Linked DNA regions of Homo sapiens: region 2 is linked to region 1. Evidence: fine-mapped expression QTL. Tissue or cell type: non-classical monocytes. Region 1 holds a variant in brackets; the other region holds the start of a gene. All regions are shown on one strand. Distances are between the middles of the regions.

The links. PIP is the estimated chance that this variant, and not a neighbour inherited with it, causes the effect.
Region 2: it holds the start of VENTX, and the variant in region 1 is fine-mapped to the expression of VENTX in non-classical monocytes (Schmiedel 2018, PIP 0.95).

What each region holds. Positions count from the first base shown.
Region 1 is chr10:133,064,428-133,070,272 of GRCh38, reverse strand. No RefSeq gene overlaps it. Among named protein-coding and RNA genes, the nearest start is that of ADGRA1-AS1, 19 kb to the left of the region's middle. The variant G/A (reference allele first, on the strand shown) is at 3,239.
Region 2 is chr10:133,235,287-133,240,208 of GRCh38, reverse strand. It overlaps VENTX (VENT homeobox), which reads right to left and starts at 2,354. Exons shown (of 3, transcript NM_014468.4): 1 at 2,054-2,354; 2 at 373-533; 3 at 1-277. The coding sequence starts at 2,294. RefSeq lists enhancers at 1,567-2,170, 2,171-2,775, 2,776-3,379, 4,589-4,922.

The sequences.
Region 1 (5,845 bases):
TAGCAGCTACTCCGGAGGCTGAGGTAGGAGGATCTCTTGAGCCCAGGAGGTTGAGGCTGCAGTGAGCTGTGATCGCCCCACTGCACTCAGCCTGGGTGAGAGGGTGAGATCCTGTCTCTAGAAGAAGAAAAGCTGTGCTCTCAAAGATTCCCCAGTGCAGGGTGAGCTGCTGGTGGAGAGGAGCCTGGGGCTGCGGGGAGACCTCCTCGGCACAGGGAGGTCAAACATCCCAGGGCGTGGCTTCACCTCTGCCCCCTGACTCTGCAACCCAGGGCCCCCCGACTCTGCAACCCAGGTCCCCCCGACTCTGTACCCCATGGCCCCCTGACTCTGCACCCCAGGGCCCCCTGACTCTGCACCCTGTGGCCCCCTGACTCTGCACCCTATGCCCCCTGACTGCACCCCAGGGCCCCCTGACTCTGCACCCTACGCCCCCTGACTCTGCACCCCCGGGCCCCCTGACTCTGCACCCTATGGCCCCCAGTCTCTGCACCCTACGGTCCCTGACTCTGCAGTATGGCCCCCTGACTCTGCACCCTGCGCCCCCGACTCTGCACCCCAGGGCCCCCTGACTCTTCACCCTATGCCCCCTGACTCTGCACCCTGCGCCCCCGACTCTGCACCCCAGGGCCCCTGACTCTGCACCCTATGCCCCCTGACTCTGCACCCTATGGCCCCCTGACTCTGCACCTTACAGCCCCCTAACTCTGCACCCTACGCCCCCGACTCTGCACCCTACGGCCCCCTGACTCTGCACCCTACGGCCCCTTGACTCTGCACCCCAGGGCCCCCTGGCTCTGCACACTACGGCCCCCTGCCCTCCCACGCCTGCCCTGGGCAGAGGCGGGCGAGGTTCCTCACACTGCTCCAGGAAAACATGGACATCCTCTGTAAACACAACAGAACGCCAAGTACATCTCCCAGTGCTTCTAGAAAAACGTCGGCCGCCTTCCCACCCCTTCCTTCGCTCCATTGAGGTCACTCATGGGACAGGGTTGGTGTGAGCACCCCAGAGGCCTGCCTGAGACCTGCTGACGGCCCCTCGGCCTCCCCGCCAGCTTCCCAGCTGTGGGTCCCAGGGTCTGAGGCCTCCCACAGCAGCTGGCAGGAGCTGGAACCAGGCCCGGGGCGGCCGATCCGCGGGGGTTGGGCCAGCGAAGGGCACGATGAGGTTTCTCCAAAGGTCCTTGTGCGCCATGACCACACGGAGCCCTTGGGGCCGGCCTCACTCAAGACATAAGTGAATGTGTTTATTGGTTTTGGTCTGAAACAGATGAAAAGCCACCAAAGGGTTTTGCAATAATTAAAACCCAGCCACGCCGGCCGCAGGTGCTGTTTGAGAGGCGGCATCCACAGAGAGGAGCTCTCTCCTGTCTCCCCACAGAGCCCGAATCTGCTTCTGCATGAGAGACAGGAGGCTGTAATTGCAGAGTTAATTAAAAGAATAAAGTGATGACAGCCCCAGGGGCTGCAGAGAACTCAGGGAAATGGCAGATTTGGGACTCAGGGCCCAGGCTCAGCTGCACAGTTGGGGCCACAGGCCGGGATTTGGCCCCCACACACCCAGGGGGAGGCTTCTCTGAGCACTGGAGCTGCCCAGAGCACCGGGTGTGCCGGGAGCCCGGGCAGATGGCGGGGCCAACCCTCATCTCAGGGCCAGTCCTGGTGGCAGCCAACGGGGACCTCACACCAGCGTGATCTGAACAGGGTCAGCACTTGCCAGCCACCTTCGGGTGATGTGGGGCAGACCCCTGGGTGGCTGTTCCCAGGACACAGAGAGCTGACAACCCACGGAGCAAAGAGACCCCTTCGTGCACCCCAGCGCCGGCTCACTCTCAGCCGAGTTCTCAGGGCTTCTGCTGCGCCATGCTGTGGCCAGGGGAGGGCGGGGCCTCTCGTCTGTGTGACCATGGATGCTTGGACTGGATACTTGCCCAGGTACAGGTGCCCTGCCCCTTGGTGCAGAACATTCTGGAACCTCTCCCAGCTTTCAGCCAATGGGCTAAGAAGCCGCACAGCCCTCCCATTGCAGAGCAAACCCACAGCCAGCCAAGGTGTGAGGTGCAGCCAGCGTCGTGGGGCCAAGTGGAGCCATTTTGTGAAGGCCAAGAAGGTCCAGTGTCCACCTGCCAGGCTGTGCAGGAGACCAGGGTGCCCCTGGCCTCTGCCCCAATGGCTTGATGCCGCTGCCTCCCTCCACCCAACCATCTGTCCCTGAGCGAGCCTGGCCCAGGGTCATGGCCAGCACTTGATGAGTGAAGGCGGCTGGGGGTGGGAGCAGGGGGCTCCGGGAGCAGGCTTTCTAGCACACATGACACGTGTCTGCTGCTGTGGCCAGCACAGTGCTGGGGATGGGGGTGGGGCAGGCAGGCAGGGGCTCACAGCTCTGCTCTTCACTGTCCCAGGAGGAAGGTCCAGCATCTCCCAGGTGGTCCCACTGCAGCACATCCCAAGCTAGGACGGGGAGAAGCGGCCCAGTCCCCACCCCCTGGCCCGCACCAGGCCACAGCACCCTGAAGTGTGGGGCAAAGCCTCCCGCTGTGTATCCGCGTGCCCATGTGTCCATGCGTCTGCCTGTCTGTGTGTGTCTGTCTTTCACACACACCCACGCTGACCGGCTCCTGCAGGCTCTGGGAACCGCAGGCATTTCGGGACTGTTCTGTCACTGCCTTTTGCATCCTTATTCAGTAATGGCCATTTTTAGAAACAGCACTAAACCTTTCATTTCTTTACATAAAACCAGAATAATTTTCACAAAGTAGTTGAGGAAGTCCCAAACACATTTGTTTTGTTAACCTAATTTGTATATTTATGATACTTAACCTCATTTAAGAGAAAGTTACTGAGAAAACATTTGTTCTCACAGTTTTCTCCTCCCTTTCTCAGTGGTTTCCATGAAGCGAGCTGCTCTGGCGTCTGAACCCAGCGTCTGCGCCTGCACAGTGCGGTCTTCTGAGCCCAGCTGCTGCCGCGGAGTCCCCCCCTCTAGAGTCCGGCCTGAGCTCTGATCCAGGAGGAGGGAACGGAAAACCCTCCTCCAGCTCCTCTGCTTCTTTGTTACTTATCAGCTAATGTTTCTTTGCGGGGAGCTTAAAACATGATTTTGTTCCTAATATTTCATCCAGTTTTGGAATTTCTATAGAACAACTTCTTTATGATGTGGATCCGTAAATGTCCGCCCCGTGTGTCAGTATTCACAGGCATAATGAATTCCGGGGAAAAATAAATGCTTAAGGCT[G/A]GACCGCTGCTCCTTGGAACCAGCCTTCCTCTTTTTTTGAAGGTGAAACCATCCTGTGTTCCTTTCCCTCTGTTGCCCTGTCCATTCTCCAGCCATCTGTTTGTTCGTTCTTCCTCTTCTTGTCCATGCCTGCCAACCACCACCCACCTATCCCTGCACCCACCCATCCACCCACTCATCCATCCATCCCCCACCTACCCCTCCACCCCTCCACCCCTCCACCTCTCCACCCATCCACCCTCCACCCATCCACCATCCACCATCCACCCATCCACCCATCCACCCACTCATCCATCCATCCCCCACCTACCCCTCCACCCCTCCACCCCTCCACCTCTCCACCCATCCACCCTCCACCCATCCACCATCCACCATCCACCCATCCACCCATCCACCCACTCATTCATCCAACATCCATCCATCCATCCACCAACCATCCACCCATCCACCCTCCCCCATCCACCATCCACCCATCCACCCATCCATCCACCCATCCACCATCCACCATCCACCATCCACCCATCCACCCATCCACCCACTCATTCATCCAACATCCATCCATCCATCCACCAACCATCCACCCATCCACCCTCCCCCATCCACCATCCACCCATCCACCCATCCATCCACCCATCCACCATCCACCATCCACCATCCACCCATCCACCCACTCATTCATCCAACATCCATCCATCCATCCACCAACCATCCATCCATCCATCCTCCCCCATCCACCCACCCATCCATCCACCCATCCACCCTCCCCCATCCACCATCCATCCATCCACCCATCCACCCACTCATTCATCCAACATCCATCCATCCATCCATTCCCCACCTACCCCTCCACCCCTCCTCCCCTCCACCCTCCACCCATCCACCCACTCATTCATCCACCCATCCACCCTCCACCCATCCACCATCCACCCATCCACCCACTCATCCATCCACCCATCCACCCTCCATCCATCCACCATCTATCCACCCATCCACCCTCCCCCATCCACCCACTCATCCACCCACTCATCCATCCATCCATCCATCCACCCACCCATCCACCCACTCATCCACCCACTCATCCATCCATCCATCCATCCACCCACCCATCCACCCACTCATCCACCCACTCATCCATCCATCCATCCATCCATCCACCCATCCATCCATCCATCCATCCACCCTCTCATCCATCCACCCGTCCACCCTCCATCCATCCACCATCTATCCATCCCTCCATCCACCCATCCACCCACCCATCCACTCACTCATCCATCCATCCTCCATCCATCCCCCACCTACCCCTCCACCCATTCACCATCCATCCACCCATCCACCAACTCATCCATCCACCCATCCACCCATCCACCCTCCATCTATCCATCCATCATCAATCCATCCACCCATCCACAATCCACCCACCCATCCACCATCCATCCACCATCCATCCATCCACCCATCCACCCACTCATCCATCCATCCTCCATCCATCCCCCACCTACCCCTCCACCCATCCACCATCCATCCACCATCCATCCACCATCCATCCATCCATCCATCCATCCATTCATCCACCCTCCATCCATCCATCATCCATCCATCCATACATCCACCCACCCACCCACCCACCCATCTATCCATCCCCCACCCACCCATATGTCTCCATTTCCCATCTACCCACCTGCCCACCCACCCTTTTACAAGGACCCTCTCCCTGTGGACAGGGGAAACATACAGAGCTGCAGCTGGGAGGGGGAAGAGCAGAGGAGTGGCCAGCCCGAGGAGGGGAGGGTCCCTGAAGCCTGGGAGTCAGGGTACAGATTGGCAGGAGACAGGTTGAAAAGGCAAGTGGGGCTGGGTACACAATGTAACAACAGAAAGAAAATCACTAAGAACCTAGACACTAAGCAGCTTGACCTACCATCTTGACCTACTTGACACACGCTGGACCCTGCACACAGCGGAATGCCACCTTCTCAAGTGCGTGTGTGTGTTCACCCAGCGGAACGCCACCTTCTCGAGCGCATGTGTGTGTTCACCCAGCGGAACGCCACCTTCTAGAGTGGGTGTGTGTGTTCACCCAGCAGAACGCCGCCTTCTCGAGTGGATGTGTGTGTTCACCCAGCGGAACGCCACCTTCTAGAGTGGGTGTGTGTGTTCACCCAGCAGAACGCCGCCTTCTCGAGTGTGTGTGTGTGTTCGCCCAGCTGGAGTGCCACCTTCTCCAGTGTGTGTGTGTTCGCCCAGTGGAACATCGCCTTCTTGAGTGGGTGTGTGTGTTCACCCAGCGGAACGTCGCCTTCTCAAGTGGGTGTGTGTGTTCGCCCAGCTGGTGTGCCACCTTCTCGAGTGTGTGTGTGTGTTCGTCCAGCAGAACGCCGCCTTCTCGAGTGTGTGTGCGTGTTCGCCCAGCAGAACGCCGCCTTCTCGAGTGGGTGTGTGTGTTCGCCCAGCTGGAGTGCCACCTTCTCGAGTGTGTGTGTGTGTTCGCCCAGCAGAACGCCGCCTTCTCGAGTGGGTGTGTGTGTTCGCCCAGCTGGAGTGCCGCCTTCTCGAGTGTGTGTGTGTGTTCGCCCAGCAGAACGCCGCCTTCTCGAGTGGGTGTGTGTG
Region 2 (4,922 bases), 170 kb before region 1:
ACGCCAGAGGCTGCCCGCAGCAGGAAGCTCCCGCAGATGCCAGGGCCTCTTGTGCCACTTGGCAGAGACCCCAGAAGGAGCCAGGGGGCAGCATCAGAGCCTGGGGCCCGGACAGGGGTGCCCAAGGGCACAGCAGCTGCAGGCCATTGGCAAGGCCAGAAGACGTTGAGTAGAAAGCTGGGGGCGCATGGAGAGACCCCGAGAAGGGGCTGTGCAGCTGGGGGTCCTGCATTTGCCGTTTGTGTTTCATGCGGCGATTCTGAAACCAGGTTTTTATCTGTAGGAAAAGCAAGATCAGAACAGGGGTGAGACTAGGCCACCAGCCCACCCTTGCCCACCCCTGCCCACCCCAGCCTGCCCGGCCCACCTCACCTGGACCTCTGAGAGCTGCATCTCCCTGGCCAGCCTCTTCCGCTCCAGAGGGCTCAGGTACTGGTGGTGCTGGAAGACGCCCTCCAAGGTGCGGACCTGCTCCATGGTGAAGGCTGTGCGGACACGGGGGGCCCGCAAGGTATTTGGCTCCTTACTCAACCCTGACATAGAGGGTAAGGGCATTTGGCTCAACATGCCACCCCATGGGGCAAGCTCGTGCCCACGGGTAACAGGTGAAGACAGCCATGCTGGGGGCTGGGCAGGGCAGATCTTCTCACCTGACAGTGACCAGCAGCACCCCCGCCGCCTCCCAGGTCACATGCGGAAAGGGGGCTCAGAGAGGGGGCTCAAGAGGGGAGGGAATGTTAACAGCAGCTTGGGCCTGCCCTCCGCTCAGTCCACTCAGTTCCGCCCCATCCCACACTTCCCTTCCAGAAGCCGGTTCCCAGGATGCCCTTCCCACAGCCTTCCAGGCCGGTAAGGTAAGAATCCATTATATGCAAAGGCCTGGCGACCCACCCAGGGGCACCCATCCCTGTCCCGGGCTCCGTCTCCTCAGCCAGCGGAGGCCAACTCAGTTAATCCCCAGGCCCACTGTGGTCAAGTCTGTTTCCTAATTTCTAAGTTAAGGAATGGGGGCTGGCACCAAACGGCCCCACGAGGTGGTCTGTGGAGCTGGGTCTGGGTCCCAGGAAAGGCCAACGTGGCCAATCGAGCTCGACATTAAATGCAAGTCTGACCAAAATGCTCGCTGGAGTTTCTGCGGAAGGAAGCGTATTTTACAAAATCTGTCTTAACGTTAGCCTGAAAGCACATGGTAGACCCAAAAAGCAAATGCCTTCTGGCAGGGAGGGCTGTAGGACTGGCATCAGAAAGGGGGTTGCGGGACAGGGATGGCTGGCTTTTTTGGGGTGGGGCAGGATAGCTAGCTGGGGAGAATACATTTAAATTTTCATTTCCCTTAAGTACAAAGTCACTCCATAAGGATCAGTCAAATTTTTAAAAATGAAAACTTGTAGATGATGTCAACCCCACTTTTGACCAAGTACTACCTTAAACCTAAAAGTGGTGATGATGTCACAAAGACTAAAACACAAACGCAGAGAACCTTTGTTCTCAGCAGACAACAGAGCATCTGGGCGGCCACAGAGGGAACTTCAGAGTTTCTGCAGGCATCGGGGTCACCGCCACCCCTGCAGCGAACCTGCAGGCTCTTTAAAGACAGCTGTGCTCCAGGTGACCCGGAATGGGCTTGAGCCTAGACGCTGAGCAGGCACCGGCTGTGCTGGGGGGCGGGGGCGGGGGGCTTGGCAAATCATCGAGACTTTCAGTGAGCGCCCGGAATCAGGGCAGGGAGGTGCGGACGGGGACCCCTTGGACGGTCCCTCGGCACCAGGCCGGGGTGGGGGACGAAGACACAGCTGAGGAACGGGGTGACAAAAGGAGGCAGAGGAGCCCACCGGGGGCTCAAGGAGAGGAAATCCCCGTCAAGGCTTTGGTTCCGAGGGAAGCTGCGCTCCAGTGAGGGCGCCGGCAAGGCCTCCGCCGGCCCTCATGGAAACGCCCCCGGCCCTGACCTAGTGGGCAGGGCACCGCGGGGAGTGCAGCCGCCGGGCTCCTGGCCTCTCCCCCACTCCCATCTCCACCTGGGAAGGAAGGGACCCCCCCCACCCGGACCTACCGGCCATGGTCCTCTCCGGCGCAGGCAGATTTGAGGACCCGGCGGCCTCCTTGATGCTGACGGCCTGAGGGGGCTCCCGGGCGCCGGATGTCTGGCCTGGGCCAGGGAGGCTCCCCAGGGAGAAGTCGGCAGGCCTGGGGGTGTGGGTCGGCCCTGAGCAGCTGCTCTGGGAGAGCCAGTCCACGGAGCCAAAGCTGGAGAGCTGCTGCGGGCCACGAGGTGGGGAGGAGGAGAGGCGCATGGCGGCCAGGTGGGCCGGAGGGAAGGCCAGGCGGGGCTGGCCAGGCGCAGGATCCACCTCGGGCCTCGCCAGGCGGCGGCGTTTATAAGCCCAGGAGGAGGGGGCGGGAGCCCGGTTTGCATACACGGCTAATGCCCAGATAAGCAGCGCCTAATTGCCTTCGATTCAGAGGCACAAAGGAGGCCGTTCACACCTCCCCGGCTCCTCGATGTCTGGGGGAGGGGCGGGGCTGCGGGCCCTGGTTAATGGAGAGGCGATGGTTCGGGATCGGTCACCTCCTTTCATCTCTCCCAACCCCCCACCCCGCGGGCCGAGGCTGCAGGAAGGTAGGAGGGTCCCACTCCCACTTGGGCCTGTCCTGGGAGGTGCCGGGCGACCTCTCCTCTCCAGGGGGACGCTGGCGCCTGTGCCCAGCCCGGACACCCGAGGGCGAGCAGGCTTCAGGCTGGGAGAGTCAGGGCGGACTTAGGTTGGGAGCAGGCTTCGGGGTGGGAGAGTCAGGCCGGTGCCCGCGTGCGCTGCGTCCAGGCTGTGCGGCCGCGCAGGAACCGAGGGAGGCTTTCCCGGGAAAGAGACGCGGAGGACCCGGGGAGCGGCGCGCGGGGGCGGGAATGTCGGGAGGGGCCTCTCGGGGGACTCGGCCGCCTCCAGCCCTAATCCGGCTCCTCTGGGGGACTCACTCCGGGGCCATCGCAGGAGCCTCTGCATTCGGGCGCGGGCGGCTCCCTGACTCCATCCCGAGCTGGAAGGGCCGGAGCCACTGCCTCGCACGGCGGGGTAGGAACTCCGCGTCGGCGGCGGGACTGGTGCGTCCCCGCCAAGCCAGGCTGTCCCCACTGTGGCCAGGGCGCGGGCAGAGCCGCCGGTGACTGTGGCGCCCAAACCTCACGGGGACGCCCTGAGCACGGGCCCCCGGGACGGTCATAGCCACGCGCGGCCGCTGCTCCCACGAACCTGAGTCCCGAGCTGTCTGCGTCTCCGCGTCCCCGGGTCGCCTGCGCGTCGGCGTGGGGCGCGGGGACCGACGTGACCGGGTGGGAGGCAGCCATGCCGAGGGTAGGACGGTGTCTTCCGCGCACTGGCTTGGGGTCCGCACGGCGTCTCCGGCGGCCGGAGTTAGGCGGAGGCGCAGGTCCGGCCCCCGAAGCCATGCGGGGTTTCGGCGCAGACGCGGGGTCCACGGAGCAGCCCCGACTCCCGGCCAGGTCCTGACCGCGGCTGCCTCAGCGCCCACGCCGCCCGCGGAAATCAGAAAGACCGGCGGGCCTCGCCCCACGGTTACGCCCGCCCCAGCCAGCCGAGCCTCCCGGGCTGAGCAAAGAGGTTGGAGCCCGGGAGGCGGGCGCTGGGGCGGGACCTCAGCCGGGAACCGATCGGCGGCCTACCTGGGGTCACAGGAGAGGGGTCGCGGAACGGACCGTGCCGCCGCTGACCCTGGTCTTCCTCGGACCCTGCCGGCCCAGTTAGGTCACTGGGCCCTCAAGGGGGAGGCTGGCGGGGGTGGGGCGCTGGGGGCTTTGGACGTGGCCTCGGGGGTAAAGCCAGGAGGGGTGGGGGGCCAGGAAGCCGGCCTAGACCCCCGCTGCACTTCATCTCCGGAGAGACCGGGTCACCCCCGGTAGAGGGGCTTTGAGCCACTGCACAGGACCGGCAGTGTGTCCCGGCCAGGGGCAGCGAGGGCCCAGATGCCTGTGGCCACAGGGCTGGCCCCGAGGATGCCCCATGGGGCAGGTCCCCAGCACTCCCGCAGTGGGGGCGGTGCCTCAAAGTGGAGCAAGACAGCACACCTCACACATCCCGCAAAAACATACAGAACGTTCGACAGGCAGGGAAAAGGCCCAGAAGCTTCCCTTACATAAAGAGGAACACCACGAGCATGCATTTCCGAAACGCCAGCACCCAGCCTTCCATTTCTCCATTTCTAATTTCCGGGGCCCAGGGCCCCGGTGTCTCAGCCCCCTTCTGTACGTGGTTCAGCACCCCCACCCCCAGCTCTACATAGAGCCCCTCCTGCCGGTTTCCCAGCCCCCCGCCACCACCTCCACCTGAACCGCCCCCTCCGATCCCCCCAAGCCCGAAGACAACCTCACCTTCACACGGCAGGGTCAGGCAGCCCCTCTCTCCTGCCCAGCGGCCCCACCACCGTGGCTCAGGCCTCCCCGCCTCCTGCAGCCCGGGCCCCTCCCTCCACCCTCCCTCTAGAGCCCGCCGAGGCTGCTCTAGCCCAGGCTTGGGGGTCCCCAAAGCCTCCGCCTCCAAGCCTCCGTCCACCCCCGGCTCTGGGACGCGCCCTGATGCGCTGCCATGGGTAGGAGACTTGGGCGCCCCCCTGCCTCCTTCCTCCCAGCCCCTGGGGCAGCCCAGCCCCGTGAATTGCGCCCCGCACGCCCCAGAGCGTGGTCCCCGCGGGCGTCGCCCTGTCCCCCACCCTCGGGGGCCAGGCCGGGTTGCGCTGGGCAGGAAGTCCCGCGTCACTCCCAGGCCGACAGCACCGCCCCCACGCACAGCCCGGAGTCCAGCTAGTCCCCGAAACGCGCTCCCCCCGAGTCCAGGGCCTGAGGACAGACACCGGGCCCAGCGCGTGCTGCCGGCCCCGTCGCGACTCGCCCGAGCCTCCTCCGAGCACTC